2 separate regions of the Homo sapiens genome follow, and region 1 is linked to region 2. The links come from fine-mapping of genetic effects on gene expression. A gene starts in region 2. The other region holds a variant in brackets. All regions are shown on one strand. Distances are from middle to middle.

Region 1 (12,079 bases), 22 kb after region 2:
CACCAATTCACTGCCAAAAGGAAAAAATGAAGCTGAAAGCTGAGTCATGCCAGAAGCTGCCTTTCCCTTTGTTCCTAAGCTGATAGCTACAGATAAAAGGTTAAATATCTCTGCAGGTAGCTACTCTGTGTTCACCTTATCTTATGTACAGTGATTTACTGAGTGAGAGACGAATACATAATTGACTCTTCCCCTACCTGCTCCTTTTCTCTTGCAACATGTGAATATCATACCCTCCTCCCTCTTTCCCCTCCAGCCTGCTTTTCCCCTTTAAAAACTGAAGCCCTCAAAATCATCTTTGGAGAAAGGCACAGACCACAGACTGTTTCTGTGATTCTCTGTTTCCTCTCCTCCGGGCATGTCCTTAACCTTGGTAAAATAAACTTCTAAATGGATTGAGACCTGTCTCAGATACTATTTGGTTTACATGCTCAATATATATTTTTTAAATGAAAACATTGTTATCTCCATGGCTAGAGAGTAAATATAGATGATGTTCTTCCTTAGGCACTCTTCTTTTTAATCTGCTTTAATATGAATTTAGAAATGTGGCCAGGCATGGTGGCTCACACCTATAAGCCCAGTACTTTAGGAGGCCAAGACAGGAGGATCGCTTGAGCCCAAGAGTTCAAGACCAGCCTGGCCAATGTGGCAAAGCCACGTCTCTACAAAAAATACAAAAATTAGCTGGGCGTGGTGGTGCGCGCCTGTAGTCCCAGCTTCTTGGGTAGCCAACACAGGAGGATAGCTTGAGCCCAGGAAGTCGAGGTGGCAGTGAGCTGAGATGGTGCCACTGCAATCCAGCCTGGAGATCGTGACAGTGAGACCAGGCACGGGGGCTCACGCCTGTAATCTAGACGGCAGACCTTTTAAAGAAATTAGTAAAATTATTTTAAAGAAGCTGTGGCATAATGGTTAAGAGCACAAGCTTTAAAGCCAGACTGCTTGGGTTTAAGCCTGGGCTCTACCATGAACTGTCTGTATGACCCTAGATACATTATTTACTTTCTTTGTGCCTCACTGTCTTCATATGTAAAATGGGGATAATAGTACCTATCTCACTATCTAATGAAGGCTAAATGACTTAACATACATAAAGGACATAATAGACATTCAGTATATATTTACTACATTAGTAGATCACTTCAGTGTTTAAACACATCTTTAATATCAAAATCTTCCCTATATGTTAAAGCAGTGTTCTTGAAATATACTACAGGCTATCAGCAGAATACCCTGCTTTGCTTTGCTTTCCTTCCTTCCTTCCTTCCTTCCTTTCTTCCTTCCTTCCTTCCTTTCCTTCCTTTCTTCCTTCCTTTCCTTCCTTCCTTCCTTTGAGACAGAGTCTCACTCTATCGCCCAGACTGGAGTACAGTGGCATGATCTCGGCTCAGTGTAGCCTCCGCCTCCCGGGTTTAAGCGATTCTCCTGCCTCAGCCTCCTGAGTAGCTGGGATTACAGGCATGCACCAACACAGCGGGCTAATTTTTGTATTTTTAGTAGAAACAGGGTTTCACCATGTTGATCATGCTGGTCCCGAACTCCTGACCTCAGGTGATTAACCCGCCTCAACCTCGCAAAGTGCTGGGATTATAGGTGTGAGCCACCTTGCCCAGCCTACACTAATTTTCTTAATACTCCTGTAGGTCCAGCGTTTTCAGTGGATAACTGCAAATGTCCATTTCTTTCGAGAAACAAACCTTCTTGGCAGTTTTGAGAGAACTTGATAGCTCAAGTCTCATTGTCAAATCACAGTGGGAATTTGGCTATGAAAACAATTACTGTATTAGTTTGAACTTTTGTGGCTTCAAGTGCCAGGAAACTCAGCTCAAACTTGTTTAGCATCATATAATAATAATGATAATAATCCTTCGTAACAGCACTAGACACAGAGATGCACCACCCGGATCCCCCTCAAGGGAAGGACTTGCTGCACAGCTGCAGGGACTGCAGTCGCCAGATAGCTCCAGCTCCAGTTTGTCAGTTTCTTCTGGGGCTGCCTCTGGTGGGGAGAGCCATCTCCCTTGAAGTCATACCCTCTCTATACAACCCACATCCAATGACTGTGTGAGGCAGAGCTGTAAACACCCACCTTGAGACAACTCTGACTGAAAATACTTCCAGAGCTCCCTGCTGGACTGGCTAAGGCTTCATCAGACCTGCTTCAGCATCGTTCGGCATCGCTCAGCATCGCTCGGCCCAATCCTGTGTCATCCTTCTTTCACAGGTATTATCCCTTCCTTATAAACACTTTGCATCCCGAACTCCATCTCAGTGTCAGCCTCTGAGGGACCCAGCCTGCCACAGTAACTGTTTAGTCAGGGTTTTCCAGAGGGACAGAGCCAATAGGACATATGTATATATGAAAGGGACTTTACTAAGGAGAACTGGCTCACGCGATCACAAGGCAAAGTCCCATGACAGGCCGTCTGCAAGCTGAGGAAAGAGAGAAGCCGGTAGTGGCTCAGTCGGAGTCCAAAAACCTCAAAACCAGGGAAGCCGACAGTGCAGCCCCCAGTCGGAGGCTGAAGGGCCTGAGAGTCCCCGGTAAGCCACTGGTCCAAGTCCCAGAGTCCAAAGGCCAAAGAACCTGGAGTCTGATGTCCAAGGGCAGGAGGAGCAGAAGGAAGCATCCAGCACAGGAAAAAGAAGGAAGCCAGAAGACTCAGCAAGCCAGCTTATCCCACCTTCTTCCACCTGCTTCGTTCTAGCTGTGCTAGCAGCCAATGGAATGGTGTCCACCCACATTGAGGATAGGTCTTCCTTTCCCAGCCCACTGACTCAAATGTCAATTTCCTCTGGCAACAGCCTCACAGACACACCCAGAAACAATACCAGCTATGTAGCTACCCTTCTATCCAATCAAGTTGACACCTAATATTAACCATCACGGTAACTTAGCTGGCCATTGGTAAATTTGGCTTTGGCCATGGTTGCACATGGGAATACAGAGCTCAAAAATATACAATCAAGCCCTGTCTTCCGTCTCTCAGTACAACTCTGCTCTCATCTGTCTGTTGACCCATTCATAAGAGGCCACCTCATGGCTGGAAGGTGGCTGCCAGGAACTCCTGGGATGATATCCTTCCATTTCACACCCAGCAAAAAGGAGCAAGCATCTTTATCCCAGCATCCCCAGAATTCTTGAAGTTCACAGTAACAGGGCTAGCATGGGTCAAGTGCCCAACTCTGAACCAATCACTGTGGCTGGGAGAAGGTGATGCTGATTTTCTTCAGGTGTAGGTCATATGCTTCACACTGAGAGTGTGAGGGTGGGAGAGGAATAATTTGCCAAATGAAAGCTCGGAGGTGTGGTCAGCAGTGGGTGAAAATCTTTTTGCTCAGAAATGTCCCCCACAATCACTCCTTGAGTCAGTTTTAACCTTATTCCGATTAAAAGTCTAAACTTCGGTAAAGGTAAAGGATATAGGTAAAATGGATTCTGGAATGAGACTGGGAATATCTCATTGAATGCTATTCAAAAATCATTTCTGGAATACCTGCTGTGTGTAGAGCATAATACAAGGTATTGTTAGAAGATAGAGAGTCTCTACCCTCAAGATATTTAAAGTCTGATTGAATATATACTCATTCTGCACTTGCAGAATAACATCAACACGTTTAAAGTGAGAGTAGGCCAGGCGTGGTGTCATGTGCCTGCAGTCCCAGCACTTTAGAAGGCCAAGGCTGGAGGATTGCTTGAGCCAGGAGTTCAAGACCAGACTGCAACACAGTGAGATCCTATCTTTATAAAAGACAAAAATTTAGCTGAGTATGGTGGCTCGTACCTGTGGTCCCAGCTACTTGAAAGACTGATGTGGGAGGATCACTTGAGCTTGGGAGGTCAAGGATCCCAGCGAGTCATGATCATGCCACTGCTCTCCAGCCTGGGTGACAGAGTGAGACCCTGTCTCAAAAGAAAAGTGAGAGTAGACGTTCTGAGAATCTCACACATGTGGGATGGGGCAGGAAAACAAAAATGTCTGCTGATTGGCTAGAGCAGCCATCTCGAAGCCCACAAATCTGACTCTGGTCATGTGAGCTTCAGGCTTTCCTGCAGAGCCTGTCCATTGTTACCTTTACTTACAGTTGAATGATCATGGTAAACTTGTTCCCTCAGCTCACAATTTAGAAGTCACAGATTATAGAAGCGAGGAGGTAGCAGGCCAAGTGACCCTAGAGGCAGTGAGAAGGGATGACTAACTGGTTAAAAGAGAGAGAGGAGACAGAACCATTTAGGTAAGATGTAAGAGATTGCAACTAAATTGAATAAATAAGCTATAGAGAAAAAACAGGCTCACATAAGTCTTTTAAAAGAGTGAAAGAAAATGCACCAAAATGTTTCTAGGCCTAAAAGAGCAATTTTCCTTCACCCTTTTTATGACTTTCCAAATTTCCTATAAGGACATAATACTTTTTTTTTTTTTTTTTTTTTTGAGACAGGGTCTTACTTTGTCACCCAGGCTGGAGTGCACAAATGTGGCTCATTGCAGTCTTGGCCTCCTGAGCTCAAGCGGTCTTCTCGCCTCAGCCCCCCAAGTAGCTGGAACTACAGGCGCATGCCACCATGCCTGGCTAAATTTTTGGATTTGTTTTTGTGTTTTTGTTGTTGTTGTTGTTTGTAGGGACGGGGGTTTCCTCATGTTGCCCAGGCTGGTCTCAAACTCCTGACCTCAAGCCATCTGCCCGCCTCAGCCTCCAAAAGTGCTGGGATTACAAGCATGAGTCACCACACCTAACCCATAATACTTTTATATAAGGGGGAAAACAAGTGTTATATTAAAACCATAGCTGTTAGAACTAGTATAAAGCACTCCAGGGTGGGCCATAGGGCAAATTGTCCCACATATCTTGGTGCCCATGGAACTATGGCATACCAAAGAAAGGCTAAATTATATTTATTATCCATCTTAAAAGAAGGCAATAATTTTACAATCTATTTCAAGATTTTTTTCTATTAAAAGGGTTAAATTTTAAAGAAAAAAATTGTCATTAAAAGGAGTAACTTGAGTTCCACGGACAATTCCCTTATGTACAGCAATTCCTACCCCAGAAAGCTCATTTACTTGGGTAAATAAGACATTACTAAGTCCAGGCGCAGTGGCTCATGCCTGTAATCCCAGCACTTCGGGAGGCCGAGGCGGGTGGATCACCTGAGGTTGGGAGTTCGAGACCAGCCTGACCAACATGGAGAAATCTCATCTCTACTAAAAATACAAACTTAGCCAGGTGTGATGGCGCATGCCTGTAATCCCAGCTACTCGGGAGGCTGAAGCAGGAGAATCGCTTGAATCCGGGAGGCAGAGGTTGCAGTGAGGCAAGATTGCACCATTGCACTCTAGCCTGGGCAACAAGAACGAAACTCCATCTCAAAAAAAAAAAAAAAAAAAGACACATTGCTGGAGCACATAGGAGGAACATAGTGAAGGAACAACCCTCACAAGATGTCATTCATCCTTGGCCTTGAGAGTGGACATCAGCATGGGGGTGGGGCTGATGGGGACTGCAGCATACAGGGGACTCGAGGAAAGGCTAGAGCACCGTGGAGTAGTGCTGGGCAGGGTTGGAGATGTCTGCGTGCAACAGCTGCAGCCAAACCCAAGACAAGTAGATCTTCATTTCTTTTTTATTATTTAAAAAAATTTTAAAAATATGTATAGATTTGGGGGCATAAGTGCAGTTTCATTACATGAATATGTTGCGTAGTGGTGAAGTCTGGGCATCTAGTGTAGCCGTCACCCGAATAGTGCACATGCATCCATTAATTTCTCATCCCTCACCCGCCTCTCACATCCCACCCCTCCGAGTCTCCAGTGTCTGGTATTCCTCTGAGCTGTCTCCCCACAGCCCCAATACACGTACACTCTCACATTCTCAAACACATGAAGGGCACAGGCCTGGAGAAGAAAGGTAAGTCCAAGCCTGGCCCACAAGAGTCAAGTAAGTGTCTGAATAGTCTTACTGGTGATCTAAAAATAGTGATTGAGATAATGCTTATAAAGCTTGCTGGTTACTTTAAAATGTTAGCACCTTTAACACCTTAAGCAAAGCCTGGAAGCACATATAAAGGAAAGTATATTTATGGAAATACCTGATAAGGCAGAATAAGGCCTTTGTGCCAT[A/C]ATCTATCTTTATAAAAAGTAGAACTATTTTGTTAACAGAAATGTATTGTAAAAAAATTCTATATTTGCCATGTTTGGCCTTGGTCAGGCCCCTTGATTTAAATGGTATCCTTCCCTTAAGGCTGGGCATGGTGGCACATGCCTGCAATCCCAGCTCTTTGGGAGGCTGAGGTGGGAGAATCACTTCTGCAATCACCAACCACAGGCCAGAATTTCAAGGCTGCAGTGAGCTATGATTGCATCACTGCACTCCAGCCTGGGCAACAGAGTGAGACCTCATCTCTAAAAAAAAAATTAATTAATTAATTAGAAATAGATGGCCAGGCATGGTGGCTCACCCCTGTAATCCCAGCACTTTGGGAGGCCAAGGCAAGTGAATCATTTGAGCCCAGGAGTTTGAGACCAGCCTGGGCAACATGGCAAAATCCCTTCTATACAAAAAAATTAGCTGGGCTTGGTCCCAGCTACTCAGGAGGCTTTGAGCCCAGGAGGTCCAGGCTGCAGTGATCTGTGATCATGCCACTGCACTCTAGGCTGGGCAACAAAGTGAGACCCTGTCTCAAAAAAGAAAAAAATAGATGGTACACAATTTCTTTTTTTGAAGGAGATGAATATATATCACTTAATCATAACAGGTAGCATTATTAAGCTTCAATATGTGCTTTTCATGTATTTGCTCATTTTGAAACGTTTCAATTCAGTTACATGGGAGAAATAAGTTCAAGAGATCTACTGTGCAGCATGGTGACTATAGTTAATAAGAAGATATTGTATTCTTGAAAATTGCTAAGAGAGTGGATGTTAAGTGTTCTCACCATAAAAATGATAACTATGTGAGGTGATACATGTTTTAATTAGCTAGATTTGGTCATTCCACAATGCGTATATACTTTGAAACATCATGGTGTACATGACAAACACATATCATTTTATCTATCAATTTAAAAAGTTGTTTAAATGTTTTAATAAAACAACAAAAATATGATACAAAGACATTTCCTTGTGAAGTACACACAAATACAAATTATAGGCACATTTTGCCAAATGGTTAGAAAGTAAACATCTGTAGCCACACAAAAACCTGCTCATAGATGTTTATAGCAGCTTTATTCATAATTGCCAAAACTTGGAAACAACCAAGATGTCCTTCAGTAGGTAAATGGATAAATAAACTATGGTATATCCAGGGAACAGAATATTATTCAGCAATAAAGAGAAAGGAACTATCAAGCCACCAAAAAACAAGAAATCTTAAATGTATATTACTAAGTGAAAGAAGCCAATCTGAAAAGGCTACATATGGCCCGGGGCGGTGGCTCACACCTGTAATCCCAGCACTTTGGGAGGCCGAGGCGAGTGAATCACCTGAGGCCGGGAGCTCGAGACCAGCCTGACCAACATGGAGAAACCCTGTCTCTACTAAAAATACAAAATTAGCTGGGCATGGTGGCGCATGCCTGTAATCTCAACTACTCGGGAGGCTGAGGCAGGAGAATCCCTTGCACCGGGCAGGTGGAGGTTGCGGTGAGCTGAGATCACACCATTGCACTCTAGCCTGGGCAACAAGAGCGAAACTTCGTCTTAAAAAATAAAAAGGAAAAGGCTACGTACTATATGATTCCAACTATATGACATTCTGGAAAACTATGGGTTAGGAGAGAGGGAGGGATGAATAGATGGAGCACAGAGGATTTTTAGGGCAGTGAAACTACGCTGTAAGATACTACAATGGTGGATACATGTTGTTATACATTTTTCCAAACCCATTCAATGTACACCAAGGGTGAACTCTAATGTACACTGTGGACTTTGGGTGATAATGATGTGTCAATGGAGGTTCATCAGTTGGAACAAATGTACCACTCTGGTGGGGAAGGCTGATAGTGGGAGCTGTTAGAGTGGGGTGGGAGCTGTTAGAGTGGGGTGGGATCAGGGAGCATCTGGGAACTCTGTATTTCCACTTAATTTTGCTGTGAGGCCAGGCTTGGTGGCTCATGCCTGTGATCCCAGCACTTTGGGAGGCCGAGGTGGGAGGATCGCTTGACCTCAAGAGTTTGAGACCAGCCTGGGCTACATAGTGAGACCTCATCTCTATCATATATATATATTTAAAATTTTTGCTGTGAACCTAAGCATTCAGACTTTCACCATTAAGTATGATGTTATCTATAGGGTTTTTGCTTGTTTGTTTGTGCATGCCTTTTTCAGATTGTGCAAATTCCCTTATCTTCCTAGTTTGCTGAGAGTTTGTTTGTTTGTTTCCCCTTGCCCCACCCCCCGCTGCCCTGCGAGATGGACTTTCACTCTGTCACCCAGGTTGGAGTGCAGTGGCATGATCACAGTTCACTGCAACCTCCACCTCCCAGGTTCAAGCGATTCTCCTGCCCCAGCCTCCCGAGTAGCTGGGATTACAGGTACATGCCACCACGCCTGGCTAAATTTTTGTATTTTTAGTAGAGACGGGGTTTCACCATGTTGGCCAAGCTGGTCTCGAATTCCTGACCTCATGATTCGCCCTCCTCGGCCTCCCAAATTGCTGGGATTACAGGCGTGAGCCACTGTGCCTGGCCTACCGAGAGTTTTTTTTTTTTTTAATAAATTGATGTTGAATTTGTCAAATGCTTTTTCTCCATCAATTGATGTGGTCATGTGGTTTTTATTCTTTTTTAATATAGTGGAATCCGTTGATTGAATTTTTTGTTTGTTTTGTTTTGTTTTTGAGACAGAGTCTCACTCCGTCACCCAGGCTGGAGTGCAATGGTGCGATCTTGGCTCACTGCAACCTCCGCCCCCTGGGTTCAAGCGATTCTCCAGCCTCTGCCTCCTGAGTAGCTGAGATTACAGGCACCCGCCATCATACCTGGCTAGTTTTTGTATTTTTGTAGATGGGGTTTCATCATATTTGCCAAGCTGGTCTTGAACTCCTGACCTCAGGTGATCCACCCGCCTCGGCCTCCCAAAGTGCTGGGATTACATGCATCAGCCACCACACCCGGCCTTGCTGATTAATTTTGAGTATTGAACCAGTCTTGCATTCCAAGAATAAATGCCATGTGATCATTATATACTATTCGGCATGTTGTCTACAAAGAGGGACAGTACTGGAAGTCCTAGCCACTATACTAGGCACAAAAAAAGGACACAGGTTAGAAAGAAAAGAAGAGACTTTTCCCTGTATGAAGACAACATGATGTTTATCTACATAGAAAATCCCAAAGAATCCACAAAATGACATGAAACTAATAAGTGAGTTTAACAAGGTCACTGAATACAAGGCCAACATACAGAGATCAATTCTATTTTTTATACATTAGTAACAAATAATTACAAATAGAAGTTAAAACGATATCATTTATATTATCTCCAAAAATGAAATACTTAGGTATAAATCTAAGAAAACACATATAGAATATGTATGCTGGATAACTATTGAAAAACAGGGGTGGAAAGGATAGCAATGGAGATGGAGTGTGGGCAGAGGGCAGAACCATTTGCTTCACTCTAGGGAAGCACGCTTTACCCTGCATAACCCATGAATACTACTCTGACACTCTGACACTGCTTTTGCTTACCTATTCTTCATCTCTGTGCACATCCTCAGAATGTACACAGTCTTGACTGTTATCTATTTCTGCAATATTGCTGCATATCAAATTACACCAAAATTCAGTGGCTTATAACCATAAGCATGTATTTAGCTCACAAATATGTGGCTCAACAATTTAGACTGAACTCAAATCGGGGAATATCTCTGGTCTTCACTAGGATCACTCTATTGTCTCGGGGTTGGCTAGCTGTCAACTTATCTCAGATGGCGTTGGCTGCTACTGGGGTCACTTGACTGTTCCATATATTTTTCATATATTCACCACATATATTTCATCCTCTGGCAGGCTAGCCTGAGCATGTTCTCATGGTGAGGGCGGAAGAGGAAGAGCAGAAGTGTATACCTGTAAGTGCTTTTTAAAACCTCTGCATGGCGGGGCATGGTGGCTCACGCCTGTAATCCCTGCACTTTGGGAGGCTGAGGCGGGCTGATCACCTGAGGTCAGGAGTTCGAGACCAGCCTGGCCAACATGGCAAAACCCTACTAAAAATACAAAAATTAGCTGGGCATGGTGGCACGCACCTGTAATCCCAGCTACTGGGGAGGCTGAGGCAGGAGAACCGCTTGAACCCAGGAGGCGAAGGTTGTAGTGAACCGAGATCGCACCACAGCACTCCAGCCTGAGTGACACAGCAAGTCTCTGACTCAAAAAAAACCAAAAAACAAACAAACAAAAAACACCTCTGCATGCATCACATCTGCTAACATCCCATTGTCCAAAGAAAGTTACATGGCTAGCCTCAGAATCAAGGGGCACAGAAATATACTCTGTCTCTTCGATCAAAGGAGTTTCAAAGTTACGTGTCAAAGGTACAGATACAGGAGGAGGAGTGAATAATTGGGAACATTAATGCAACCAGTCTACTAAAATCATGGTGCGAGGCTCTAATCTTTGGCACCCTCCCTGGCCGCAATGCATTTTGTGACCTCAGTCTTCATTCTTGCACATCACTTTGATATCATCATTACTCTCCCAGCACATCCTTTCAGGATTAGCTCTAGGGCTGGTCTAAGACACAGATAGATGAATGGGCCACTGATTTGCATTCCAATCTCACAGCTCTAAGCTCTGAAAAGCATCTGGCCCAGGCTAGGCTGGTTTAGTTGAGCCGTGGGTGGGAAATAAGGGCTGTGCTCATGCCTAAGGGTCTGAACTGTTCTCTGTCGCCAAATTGCTGAGCTTTCAAAAGCTGGATGTGACCTTACCTCACTCAGACTTGTTATTTACAGCTGTGTTTCCACTAGTGAGGTCGTTTTGGGGATCTGGAGTCAAAAACCTTCCTCTGTCACTGGAAAATATTTACTGATTTCTAGCTGTGTATCTGACCATGCTAACTTCTTCTTTTTTTCTTTTTTCTTTTTCTTTTCTTCTTTCTTTTTGATGGAGTTTCGCTCTTGTCACCCAGGCTGGAGTACAGTGGTGTGATCTCAACTCACTTCAACCTCTACCTCCAGGGTTCAAGCAATTCTCCTGCCTCAGTCTCCCGAGTAGCTGGGATTACAGGTGCCCACCACCATGCCCAGCTAATTTTTTGTATTTTTAGTAGAGACAGGGTTTCGCCATGTTGGGCAGGCTGGTCTTGAACTCCTGACCTCAGGTGATCTGCCCACCTCAGCCTCCCAAAGTGCTGGAATTACAGGCGTGAGCCACCTTGCCCAGCCTGCTAACTTCTTTTTATATGCTTTAGATCAGTCATCATCTGTATGTTCTCTCTTTCCATCTGAACCAAATTCTTGACTTTCCTCAATCCTATGGCTATGTGATTCCTAAAGTGTCTAAAACAGGCTGGGCACAGTGGTTCACGCCTATAATCTCAACACTTTGGGAGGCCGAGGCAGGTGGATCACTTGAGGTCAGGAGTTTGAGACCAGCCTGGGCAACATTGTGAAACCCCATCTCTACTAAAAATACAAAAAATTAACCGGGTGTGGTGGTGGGCGCCTATACTCCCAGACACTCGAGATGCTGAGGGTAGAAGGATCACCTCAGCCAGGGAGGTCAAGGCTGCAGTGAGCCATGGTCATGCCACTGCACTCCAGCCTGGGCGTTAGGAGTAAGACCATGTCTCAAAAAAATAAAGTAAAATAAGTAAAGTGTCTAAAACACTATGATCATTTTTCTTCCATGTCAACTTATCCTAAATTACTGACCTGGTCTTCTGTAAGTACTTAATGTTGGTGAGCATTGTGCTCCAAACTGAGCGCCCAAAGTGTATACCAAAGCATATTACGGGTTGGATGATCAGACTGGACTCTAAGCTCAATCTATGCAATAAAAGCTGAATGGAGAGTAAAGCCATATCAAACCTTAAGCTAGCACAGAGAGACAACCTGACTAGGCAGAAAATGT
Region 2 (12,079 bases):
CGCTGTTCTTCTCAGATTAAAGTGTCACTTAAACACAAAAAGGTGGCAGAAATTACATTTTAAAACTTTTTCTCAAAATAAAGAGTTTTGAAATTCACAGTTGAACTCTTTCATTCATAAACATTTAAAAGTTAAATTGTTTGCCTCCAGAAATTAAGTTGGGTTCCCAGCACACAGTGGATACTTTAAAAATGTTTCCTTAGGTCTTTTTGTCGTTCCTTATTCAGAGCCAAGAGGACAATTACTCACTTCCTCTATTGATATAGAGAAATCAAATTTTATTTTTTACTATTAAAAAAGAGAAGTCTTGAAAAATCTTTACTGGATTTACTTGTGTTCAAAGATTTGCTTGACAGTAGTAATCATTTCATTGTGTTTATCAAAACATCATGTTGTACATCTTAAATGCAGACAATTTTTTAAAAGATTTGCAAACTGAATTTTAAGATCAGTTTAAAATCCCCATCCCAATAGTCTTCAGTATACTATGAATAATTAGCTAATCACATGACATTAGAATTCAGATTAGGGGGACCTTGCAGTAGAAGACCAAACATACCTGAGAGAAAGAAGAAATGTTTTCTCACAATTACAGACAGTCCTTAAAATATTAATATTTGGCATAACCTGAGACATCACATATTGACAAACTAAATTTCTTTATACATTTAAAGAAACACTAATACTCAAAGATATAGAACAAAATTACACAGGAATGCTGAGATGATATTGCCTTTTCTGAACAGCCATCAGTTACACTAGATTTGTAACTTGATTGTTCACAAAATAAAACAGTACACTGTAGCACAACCAAATGGCTGAAAGATGGAGGTGAGTTTTAAAAGTACGTATCAGCAAAGGAAAATTCCACTGTTGTCTTTAAGCCTTAAGATAAAGGTGATTGAACTCCTCAGAACACGGAGTACTCTCCAGAAAATATATTTTCAAATCCCCATTTATTTTCCATCCCTTGAGCATGTGTTTACGAATCTGACAAATCTACCTCCTATTTCACATTGTCCTTTAAGAAACTGGGTCTAGGGCCTATTAAATAAAAATATTTTCACGGTTATCTATATAAAGGCAATTTTCATTTGCATCATGGCTTGGAGTCAATCACCTGCAATGACCACGTGCTTCAATTCCCCCCTGTCTGTCTTCTCAGGAAACCTCCCAGCTTACCTGCAGGCCTGGCATCAGTCATTTATCACCAACTGACACAAACCACAGAGCTCAACAACGGTCAGGGATGGAGGCCAAAGTCTGTGTTGAGACCTATAATTCGCAATCACCAAACTCGGTTTTAGACCTGGTCCTGTTTCAAGATCTGTGTAGGTCACTACTTCATCAAAACTGGAGGGCTCTTAACAGCGCTTGCCCCTTACACGGTTTGGCTGCGAGGGCCTGGTGGCCATGAGCCCCGGCTGTCAACAACTAATCAAGAAACATGAGAAGCAAGGCCCAGAACCAAGGGTAATTTTCACATTAAAGGTTAAGGTTTCTGCTTTCCATTCTCTATCAGGGCACCTGGATGGAAACTGAATAAAGAAATCCCTCAGTATATGTGATAAAATAAAATTTTCCCCGTTGGGAACAATCATGAAGTGGCTCGTCTATTTCGTGTGAGGATGCCAATTCAGGGGCTTTAACACCACTGAATTACATTCAAAAAGAGAATACCTGACTCCACTTTGGAGTCATGGGCAGGGCGAGGGGGGAGGCAGGGGGCACAGAAGAGGAAGAGGGATGACTCAGATTATGGCTGACATCCATGTAATAAAGGGAGATTTGTACTGACCACTGTGCATGTAACACACTGTGTACCATTAAATCTAGAAAAGGATGGTAGCATCAGCCCACCCCTAACAACAAAAGATGGCTGACTCCGGAATTAAAACCACGACTTTTCCCCTTCATACATTCGGAAATGTATCTCAAACTCACTCCCTGTTACCGTCTTAGGAATACAAAAGCTCCTCTTCGTTTGAGAAAGCAAGTAACTGGGTATAACTTTCCACTCGGGACATAAGAGCAGGAGGCGTGCCTGTCTCCTCGTCCAGGCCTGACATGGTGGTGCCACCCACTCTGGGTCCTGGACCACTGCTCACCTTTCACCACACTTCATGCTCTGACTTTATCATTAAGAGACCTGGGAATGTGGACCTCAGGAGTGGGTACCCACCCAGGCTGACCATGGATGTGGCGTCCAAGAGGCCCCACTAACCCATACCCAAGCAAAGACACTTTCAGACTTCGTCCCCACTCCCTACTGTGGCCTGTCCCCTGAGGTGATGCAGTCACCTGGGAAGCCACCCACCTCCAGCCACCACGCAGGCACACACACCCTATCGAGCTCAACTGGAGCGGGAGGTGGTGGGTAAGAGGTTTGCAACAGAGACCGAACGGGGCAGACGGAACCGGACCACCTCTGTCCCTTTCATTTTCCTGGGTTCCCAATGCAGAAACGTGGAATAGGGGTGGAATTGTTTTTAACGGTAGCAGAGAGCCAGAAAATGCAGACAGTTGACCTTGGGAACCAACACCGTCGCAGCGGGAAACGTAAAAGAAACGGAACACGTTGGCAAGTGAAGGGGGAGCACCGCGCGGCGCCAGGAGGAGCGCGGCGGCCGAGGGGTGTGGAGGGCGGGGGGTGTAACAGGGGTGCTCACCATAGATCATGGCCAGCCCGGTCTCGTGCAGAAAGCGCACCCGGCGGTGCTTGAAGAGCCAGATGGTGAGGATGGTGAGCGTGAGCAGCAGGATGAAGGTGAGCAGGCTCACGCTGTCTTGCCGGTGGCTCTCCTCCGCCTCCTTCTCAGTAGCGAGCTCCTCCATGGCGCTGCTGTCCTCCGCCGCCGCCCCAGAGGAGGAGGCCGAGGCCGCGGCCGCGACTCGCAGCCCCCAACCCAGCAGCAGCGGCAGCAGCAGCAGCCGCGGCGGCGGCGCCCCGGTAGCCCGACCCGAGCCAGGGCGCGCCGCGTCACCAGGCTCCATGGTCCCGGGGCCCCCCGCGCCTCCTCCGAGCGGGGACCAGCAGCCCGCGCCGTCGGCGGGTTCTGGCAGCACCGCGGACCTGCCGGAGTGGCCGTGGCCGCTGCAGCTCCTCCTCCTACTCGCGCCGGGCCGGGGCTGCGCCCGGGGCCGCGCGGGGGAGGGGCGCGCGCAGTGCGCAGGATCCCCAAGCACCGCCCCCCGCCCGCGCACCTGTTCGTCCCCCGGCCGCGCCACGCCGCACCGCCCCGCGGGCCAACCGAGCCACCCAGGCGGGGCCGGGTGTTGCCCTCGGGTCTGCGGGCCGGCCGCCGGCTGCTTGCCTCTCTGCGCTTCTCACCCCGTCCTGGCGCACCTGCCCAGGCAGTCTGGGGTCGTGGGGCCAGTTCATGGGCAGCCGCCGCCGCACTTCCGAAAGGGGACGCCAGAGGTCGCCGGCGCCTAGCGGGAGCATCGGCTTGGAGTGACTAGCCTTGCGGTCTCGAGTCCCGTCTCTGGCGCCACGGCGAAGTGTTTAATCTCAGGCCAGTGTGCAGCCGCCCTGGGCCCAGTAAAGTGGGGGCTGTCAGTGAACCGAGCAGCCCCGAAGCCACGTTAGCCCCTACACCTCTCTTTCCTCATCTCTCAGGTTGCCCTTCCAGCCCCAGAATCTGCTAGGTTTCATTCAAACCTCTGTTCTCATCAGACTCAAATGTGAGGACTGATAAGGAGTTGGAATCGGGGGAGGGCATTGAAGTATCTCCTTCCTCACTTGAGGGAATAGACTTCGTCTGCGCTGTGCTACTAATCCCCTTGGGGAATAGGGTTGAACCAGAAGGAACTGAACGCTTGCCATTCCTGGTAGATGAGCAGTAGCTGGTCCTAAGGTGGTGGTGGGGGGTGGGGGTTACCCTGATGACCCTTTCTTTTATGTTGCTCACCTGGTAGCTCAGAGAGTCTTTTAATGACTCTTAAGACCAAACCCAGCTCTGAACAAAATTATGGCGTGGACTCTGAAGGATGAAGCCTCTTGGAACAAATTCTCAGGAAAACTAGAATCTTCAATCCACCTTGCTCCTCTGGTCAAGGAAGAAACAAGATCAGATTAATCACTGAGTTCCCAGTGCTTAGCACTGTACTCATGTGTTTATTGAACCACTCTGAAATCTCTACCAAAACTGCCCATGTTTTCGCTCCCAGGGGAGTTTGCATTTTTAAGAGGATTCATTGAAGAAGGTGATGCTTAACCAAATGAAATAATAGGGTAGAGGTAGCATTAGGTAAGAAAACTCTTTGGAGTACTGCAGCCTTCCTGGTTCCCCTGTAGGTGAGCACTCTGCCAAAGCTGTTTAGTGGTTTCTTTAAAGCAGGGAAATCTCTTCATCTACATTTTAGCTAGCCCCTTTCCCAACTCCTCTAGGCAGTCACTCAGCCCCTGCAAACATCCGTATACCTTGAAGTTCCACACAGGTTTCCAATAAAATTGCAAATACTTAAAACCTGGATGGGCACTGTGTTGGTCATAATATTATGCCCCTTTGGGTGCCCAGTACTCAAGGACAGAATTTCTCTCTTTAGAAAAGGGCAACTCAGGAGCTACCTTAAAAGTACAGACTTCTTAGTATTTGTGGCGGATTGTATTTTTTAAAAAGATGGCCACAATCATATTTCCAATCCCAGAACCTTACCATCCCCCATCAAGAAGGGGCATCTATGTTCCCTCCCCTTGAACCTCAGTGGACCTTTGTGACTCCCTCAAAGAATATAATGTGGTAATGGAGATTATGTGATTTGTGAGGCTAGGTCATAAAAGGTAATCTAGCTCCTGCCTGTTTCATTCTGTCACTTTCCACTCTAGCTAGGCTGGGCACGGTGGCTCACGCCTGTAATCCCAGCACTTTGGGAGGCCAAGGCGGGCGGATCACCTGAGGTCAGGAGTTCAAGACCAGCCTGACCAACATGGCAAAACCCTGTCTCCACTAAAAATACAAAAATTAGCCGGGTGTGGTGGTGTGTGCCTGTAATCCCAGCTACTTGGGAGGTGGTGGCACGAGAATCACTTGAACCTGGGAGGCAGAGGTTGCAGTGAGCCAAGATTGCACCACTGCACTCCAGCCTGAGTGACAGAGTGAGACCCTGCCTCCAAAAACAAAAAAACAAACAAACAGACAAAGAAATCTAGCTACCTGGAAGCTGACATACTGAAGAAACCATGTAGAGAGACCATGTAGCAATAGAGGTAGATGCCACAGGAGACCCAACTTTTTGAGTGTTCCCAGCCCAAATGCCACACATGTGAATGAATGAGTCTTCAAATCAATTCATTCCCAGCCACCATCTTACTGTAGACATATGAGAGGCCCCAAGCAAGAACCATGTCGCTGAACCTAACCAACATCTGCAACTGTAGCATAATAAAATGATTGGTGTTATTTTAAGCTACTAAGTTTGAGGGTGGTTTCTTCCACAGCAATAGATAACCAGAAGAGTATTTATTATGTAAAGTAGTTCCCTTGGGTAGAGTATGAAAAGACTAGTCCCAACCATTCACAAATACACACCAAAGAAAACACTCCATTATCTCTACATATTTATGTGTGAAAACTAACCTATATAATACAGGAGTTCTGATTTCAGTTAACACAGAATAATCACACTAAACCCATTACCTGCTACTGAATACAGCTATAAAATGTGAACAGAATGCATGCAGCAACTATTTGAGGACTCTGGAAAGTAAATTGTACCACATAAACTGAGGAAAAACAACAGAATTTGAAGTAAAACTGAACTGGCGGTGAGTTTACCATTTTTTTCCTCCAGTCTCCACTAGACTGGACTCAAGGCAGCTTAACACCCGGAAGGGAGCATCAACATGGACAGAGAGAGCTCCAGGAAAAGCAGAAAATTGGTCTCCTAATATTCAGAGAAAGTAGGAGAAATGTGCCATTTTTTTTCTTTTCTCCATTCTCTTACATTTTAGCCAATAAGCAATCCCACTGTGGCACCTCAGTCAACAGTGACAATGGAGACAGCAATACCTTCAAGCACCCAAAAAATGCTAAGGGAGGGGAGAACCTTCCTCTCTGTTTGAAGTAGCTCTGGTCCCAAGACAGTGGGGCCAAAACCTCAATGATATATATTTTTTCACTCTCTCTGTCCTGATGCTTGGCCCAAGACATGGGCAAAGTTTCAGGAAATACATAACAGAGAGGATTAAATAAAGACCCAGATTTCTGGACAGGCACAGTGGCTCACCCCTGTAATCCCAACATTTTGGGAGGCTGAGGTGAGTGGATTTGTTGAGGCCAGGAGTTGGAGAACAGCCTGGGCAATGTAGCAAGACCCTGTCTCTATGAAACATTTAAAAATAAAATTAGCTGGGCACTGTAGTGCTTGCCTGTAGTCTTGGCTACTCAAGAGGCTAAGGTGGGAGGCTCACTTGAGCTCAGGAGTTCGAGGCTACAGTGAGCTATGATCACACCACTGTACTCCAGCCTGGGCGACAGAGCGAGACCCTGTCTTTAAATAAATTAAATAGTCTAGATTTCTTGCCAATTGATTAAAAGGGGAACTCCAAGGCATTACAAAGTACCAAGGAGACAGTAGAGAGGAGAGGACCTTGGGAAAGGTCCTCATAAAGTTTTTATGAACTCCTAGGTTCACCCCAACCTGCACATGGATCTGATCCTAAACAGCATACCAAAGACTGTGATAACTGAACTAAGAGGCAGACCACCACCCAAGCCCTAGACTAGCCACTGGATAAAACACATGTAGGACAGATCTGAATAGCATTACAAACTTTTGAAAACTGAATTGACTTTGGAGCCACTATCCACAAAAGGCATGTCAGAACTTGTGATCTAAACCCAAGCATGTCTATTACAAACTAAAACAAAAATATGAATATTTCCCCATAGTATTAAAACAAGATACAAAGTCCTATAACATAATATTCAAAATGTCCAGGATACAACCCAAAATTATTCAATACCTGAAGAACCATGAAAATCTTAACTTGGGTGGGAAAAGGCAAACAACAGACACCACTGCTGAGGTGACACCAATGTTGGAATTATCTGAAAAAGACTTTAAAGCAGCTATTATAATGATGCTCCAACAAGTAAGGACAAATAATCTTGAAATGAATGTAAGGATAAAAGGCTCAGCACAGGAGTAAAAGATAAAAGAAGAACCAAATTGAAATTTTAGGCTGGGCACAGTGGCTCACACCTGTAATCCCAGCACTTTGGGAAGCCAAAGCGGGTAGATCACAAGGTCAGGAGTTCCAGACCAGCCTGGCCAACATGGTGAAACCCCATCTCTACTAAAAATACAGAAATTCACTGGGCATGGTGGCATGTGCCTGTAATCCCAGCTACTGGGAGGCTGAGGCAGGAGAATAACTTGAACCTGGGAGGTGGAGTTTGCAGTGAACTGAGATCGCACCACTGCGCTCCAGCCTGGGTGACAGAGTGACACTCCATCTCAAAAAAAAAAAAAAAAATTTTATAAGTGAAGAATACAATAGCTGGAATTTTAAAATTGGATGGATGCAATAGCAGAATAGAGATGAAAGAGTCAGTAAATATGAAAATAGATCAATAGAAATTATCCAACCTGAATAGCAGAGAGGAAAAACTGAAAAATAAATAGAGCCACAAAGACCTATAGGAGATAATAAAATATCTAACATTTGTGTCTTTAGAGTTACAGAAGGAGAAGAGAAACAGTGTGGTACAGAAAAAAAGATGTGAAAATATAATAACTGAAAACATTCCAGATAAAGCAAAAGACACAAGCCTGCAGATTGAAGAACCTCAGCAAAACCCAAGCAGGATAAGCCCAAAGAATCAAAGCACAGACACATTATATTCAAACTGCTGAAAAGAAAAACAAAAAAATATGTTTAAAGCAGAAAGATAAAAATGAAATATTACATACAGGGTAACAACAATTCAGATGACTACGGATTTCTCATCAGAAACCAAGAAGGTCATAAAGACATGCACAGCATTTTTAATGTGCTGAAAGAACTGTTAACCAAAAATAATACATCCAACAAAAATAGATTTCCGTGTGAAGAAATAACACCAATACTGTACAGTCTCTTCTAGAGAGTCAGACAGTTGAAGAAAAGAAAGCTACATACCAATATCTCTCATGAACTTAGACATAAAAATTCTTAACAAAATATTAGTAAATTGAATCTAACAATGTATAAAAAGAAGTGTACACCATGACCAAGTGGTATTTATCCTAGGATTACAAGGCTTGTTCAACATGAGAAAATCACTCAATGCAATCCACCATATTTACTGTCTAAAGAAGAAAAGCTGCCTGATCATATTCACTGATGCGGAAAAAAGCACTGACAAAATTCAACATCCATTCATGATAGCTTTCAGCAAAATAGGAATAAAAGGGAACTTCTTTGACCTGATAAAGAGCAGATACCCGCCCCCCCCAAAAAAAAAAACCGCACAGAATATCTAGCATTATTCTTAAAAGACTGAATTCTTTCCCCCCAAGGTCGGGAAAAGGCAAGGAAGTCCACTATCACCACTCTTAGTCAACATTGTATTGGAACTCCAAGTCAGTGCACTAAGACAGAAAAACGAAATAAAAGGCATACGTATATAGCAAAAATCACAATATGTAAATTTTAATGGAATGCTGGGGAAACAGAGGAACTAAAAACAGAGGGAACAAAAAGAAAAGGGAGGAAAAAAGAGAAATTCTCAAAGGATATTAGAAAAATTCTCCTATTCATAGATAATATGATCATCTACTTAGAAAAATCCCATGAAATCTACAAAATCCTAGAACCAAATAAGCGAGTTTAGCAAGGTCTCAAGGTGCAAGGTCAGCACACAAAAACCAATCATATTTCTATATACAGGCTATGTGCAACTGGAGATTTTTTTTTTTTTTTGGTGGAGTCTGGCTCTGTCACCTAGGCTGCAGTGCAGTGGTGCGATCTCGGTTCACTGCAACCTCCGCCTCCAGGGTTCAAGTGATTCTCCTGCCTCAGCCTCCCAAGCTGGGATTACAGGCACCCACCACCACACCTGGCTAATTTTTGTATTTTTAGTAGAGACAAGGTTTTGCTGTGCTGGCCAAGCTGATCTCGAACTCCTGACCTCACCTGATCCGCCTGCCTCGGCCTCCCAAAGTGCTGGGTTTATAGGTGTAAGCCACTGCACCTGGCCAAAAAATCTTTAAAATGTATCATTCACAATAGCATAAAAGAAAAATATTTAGGTATAAATTTTTAACAAAACATGTCCAGGATCTATATGCTAAAATCTATAAAATGTTGATGAAAGAAATCAAAGAAGACCTGAATAAATGAAGAGACATGCCATGTTCATGGATTGAAAGACTAAGCAAAGATGTCAAATCTCTCCAAATTGATATACAGATTTAATAAAATTTCCATAAAAATCCCAGCAAAATGTTTGGTGAATATAGCCATGTGAAATATAAAATTAATAGGAAAGTCAAAGTAACAGACTAGCCAAAACAATTTTGAAAAAGAAGAATAAAATTGGAGGCCTCACACTATCCAATTTAAGATGTACTGTAATGCTACTATGTAAAGTAATAAAGTATAATTAAGGCAGGGTAGCATTGGTGAAGGAATAGATATATACATCAATGGGACAAAATTAGAGTCCAGAAATAGGTCTACATACAAAATTGATTTTTCACAAAAGTGCAAAAGCAATTAAATGGACAAGGTACGTTCTTTTCAATGAATTGTTTGGAATTATTGGGCATCCATACACAAAAAGAATGAACCTTGAGCTAAATCTTATACCTTGTACAAAAATGAATTTTATGTAGATTATAGATTTAAATGTAACATACAAAACTGTGAAACAGTTACAAAAAAACATAAGAACACCTTCCTGATCTTGGATTAAGCAAAGAGTGCCTAGATATGACACCAAAAGCACAATCCTTATATGAAAAAATTGATAATTGGACTGCATCAAAATTAAAAGTTTTTGCTCTGCAAAAGACACTTTTAAAGTAATGAAAAGACAAGCTACAGAGTGGGAGAAAATATTTACAAAACATATTCAACAAAGGACTTATATCCATAGTACATAAGAAATTCTCCAAACTTAATAAGAAAACAACCCAGTTGAAAAATGGGCAGAAGGTTTAAACTAACACTTTACAAAAGACGGTATGTGGATGAGAAATCATTACATGAAGAGATGTTTAACACCATTAGCCATTAGGGAAATAAAAATTAATACCATGATTGCCACCTATTAGATTGACTTAGAATATTAGAAATAGAATGACTAAATAAAAAATACTGACAACACCAATTGGAGATGAGAACGAAGAGCCCCTGGAACTCTCTTACATTGCTGGTGGGAATGCAAAATGGTAAACCACACTGGAAGAGAGTTTGGCAGTTTCTTATAAAGTTAACATGCATTTATCCATAAGAACAAGCAATCTCACTCCTAGGTATATATGTATATATCCAAGGGAAGTGAAAATGTGTTCATCCAAAAACCTGCACATGGATTTTTTTGTTGTTGTTTTGAGACAGAGTCTCGCTCTGTCACCCAGGCTGGAGTGCAGTGGCACAATCTTGGCTCACTGCACCTTCCGCCTCCCAGGTTCAAGCAATTCTTATGCCTCAGCCTCCCAAGTACCTGGAATTATAGGCATGTGCTACCATGCCCAGCTAATTTTTGTATTTTTAGTAGAGACAGGGTTTCACCATGTTGGCCAGGCTGATCTTGAACTCCCGACCTCAAGTGATCCACCCGCCTCGGCTTCCCAAAGTGCTGGGATTACAGGTGTGAGTCACTGCGCCCAGCTTTTTACATGGATGTTATTAGCAGCTTTATTTATAATAGCCAAAAACTGAAAACAACCCAAATGTCCTTCAGTGGGTGAATGAATAAAAAACTGTTGTATGTTCATACAATGGAATACCATTCAGCAATAAAAATGAATGAACAATTGATATACTAATAATTTGGATGAATATCAAAGGCATTATGCTGAGTGGAAGTGAGTCTCAAAAGGTTGCACACTATATTATTCCATTTTATGACATTCTTGAAATGATAAAAGTATAGTTACAGAGAATGGATCAGTAGTGTCTGGGGCTAAGTGGGAGGGGAAGCGTATAACTATAAAGGGATAACACAAGGGAGGTTTGGGGATGATGGAACCATTCTATATTCTGATTGTAGTGATGGTCGTATGAATCTGTACATGTGTTAAATTCAAATAATTGTACAAGAAAAATAAATATTGCTGTAAGTTAACTTAAATAATTTCTCTCTGTCATGTGTTAACAAATCCTCTGCTTACCCTTGGACATGCTACAACTTTATATTAGTTTAAGACGGTGGTTAAGGCCTCAAGAAGTCCCCAAGAGCTATGTCCTGGGTTCAGTTACCCTGAAATGTGGCAGATGAGGAAAACTGAAACCTTAAATTCAGGCACACCCACAGGATACTATGAAATATATGGGCATAAACACTAGCATTGGCGGGGCGTGGTGGCTCACGCCTGTAATCCCAACACTTTGGGAGGCCGAGGCGAACGGATCACTTGAGGTCAGGAGTTTGAGACCAGCCTGGCCTACATGGTGAAACCTCATCTCTACTAAAAATAGGAAAATTAGCCGGGTGTGTTGGCGGCATCTGTATTCTCAGCTACTCAGGAGGCTGAGGGAGGAGAATCACTTGAACTCAGGAGGCAGAGGTTGCAGTGAGCCAAGGTTGCGCCACTGTACTCCAGCCTTGGTGACAGAGGGAGACTCAGTCTCAAGGAAAAAAAAAAAAAAAGAACCAGGAAGGAAGCTTCTCCCCTCTGGCTGCCTTCCACTCTCCCACAAGTGCCTCCCATTGGCAGCACCTCAGCAGCAGCAACCAGGCATCCTAAGAGGACCTCATATCTATTCTGCATGGCCTTTGCTCTGTACCGCCAGGTTCTGGTAATCCTACCTCTTCCCTGTTGTTTTTCCAAGTTTAGGGATAGTAGCTGCTTCTTGTAGTTATTATCTCTGGGTTCTCTCACAGTTGCCTTTTTGCTATCTCATTTCTGCATTACCTATGTAACC

Alleles and levels. Alleles are on the strand shown, and positions count from the first base shown. SD is a standard deviation of normalised expression in the study named.
For the expression in stomach of the gene that starts at base 3,083 in region 2, C is the low allele of the variant in region 1 and A is the other (small effect, 0.22 SD a copy in GTEx).

Evidence for each region.
Region 1: its variant is fine-mapped to the expression of SLC9A7 in stomach (GTEx, PIP 0.97).

What each region holds. Positions count from the first base shown.
Region 1 is chrX:46,778,287-46,790,365 of GRCh38, forward strand. No RefSeq gene overlaps it. Among named protein-coding and RNA genes, the nearest start is that of SLC9A7, 25 kb to the left of the region's middle. The variant A/C (reference allele first, on the strand shown) is at 6,123.
Region 2 is chrX:46,756,036-46,768,114 of GRCh38, forward strand. It overlaps SLC9A7 (solute carrier family 9 member A7), which reads right to left and starts at 3,083. Exons shown (of 17, transcript NM_001257291.2): 1 at 2,670-3,083. The coding sequence starts at 2,994. RefSeq lists silencers at 2,855-2,994, 3,015-3,364.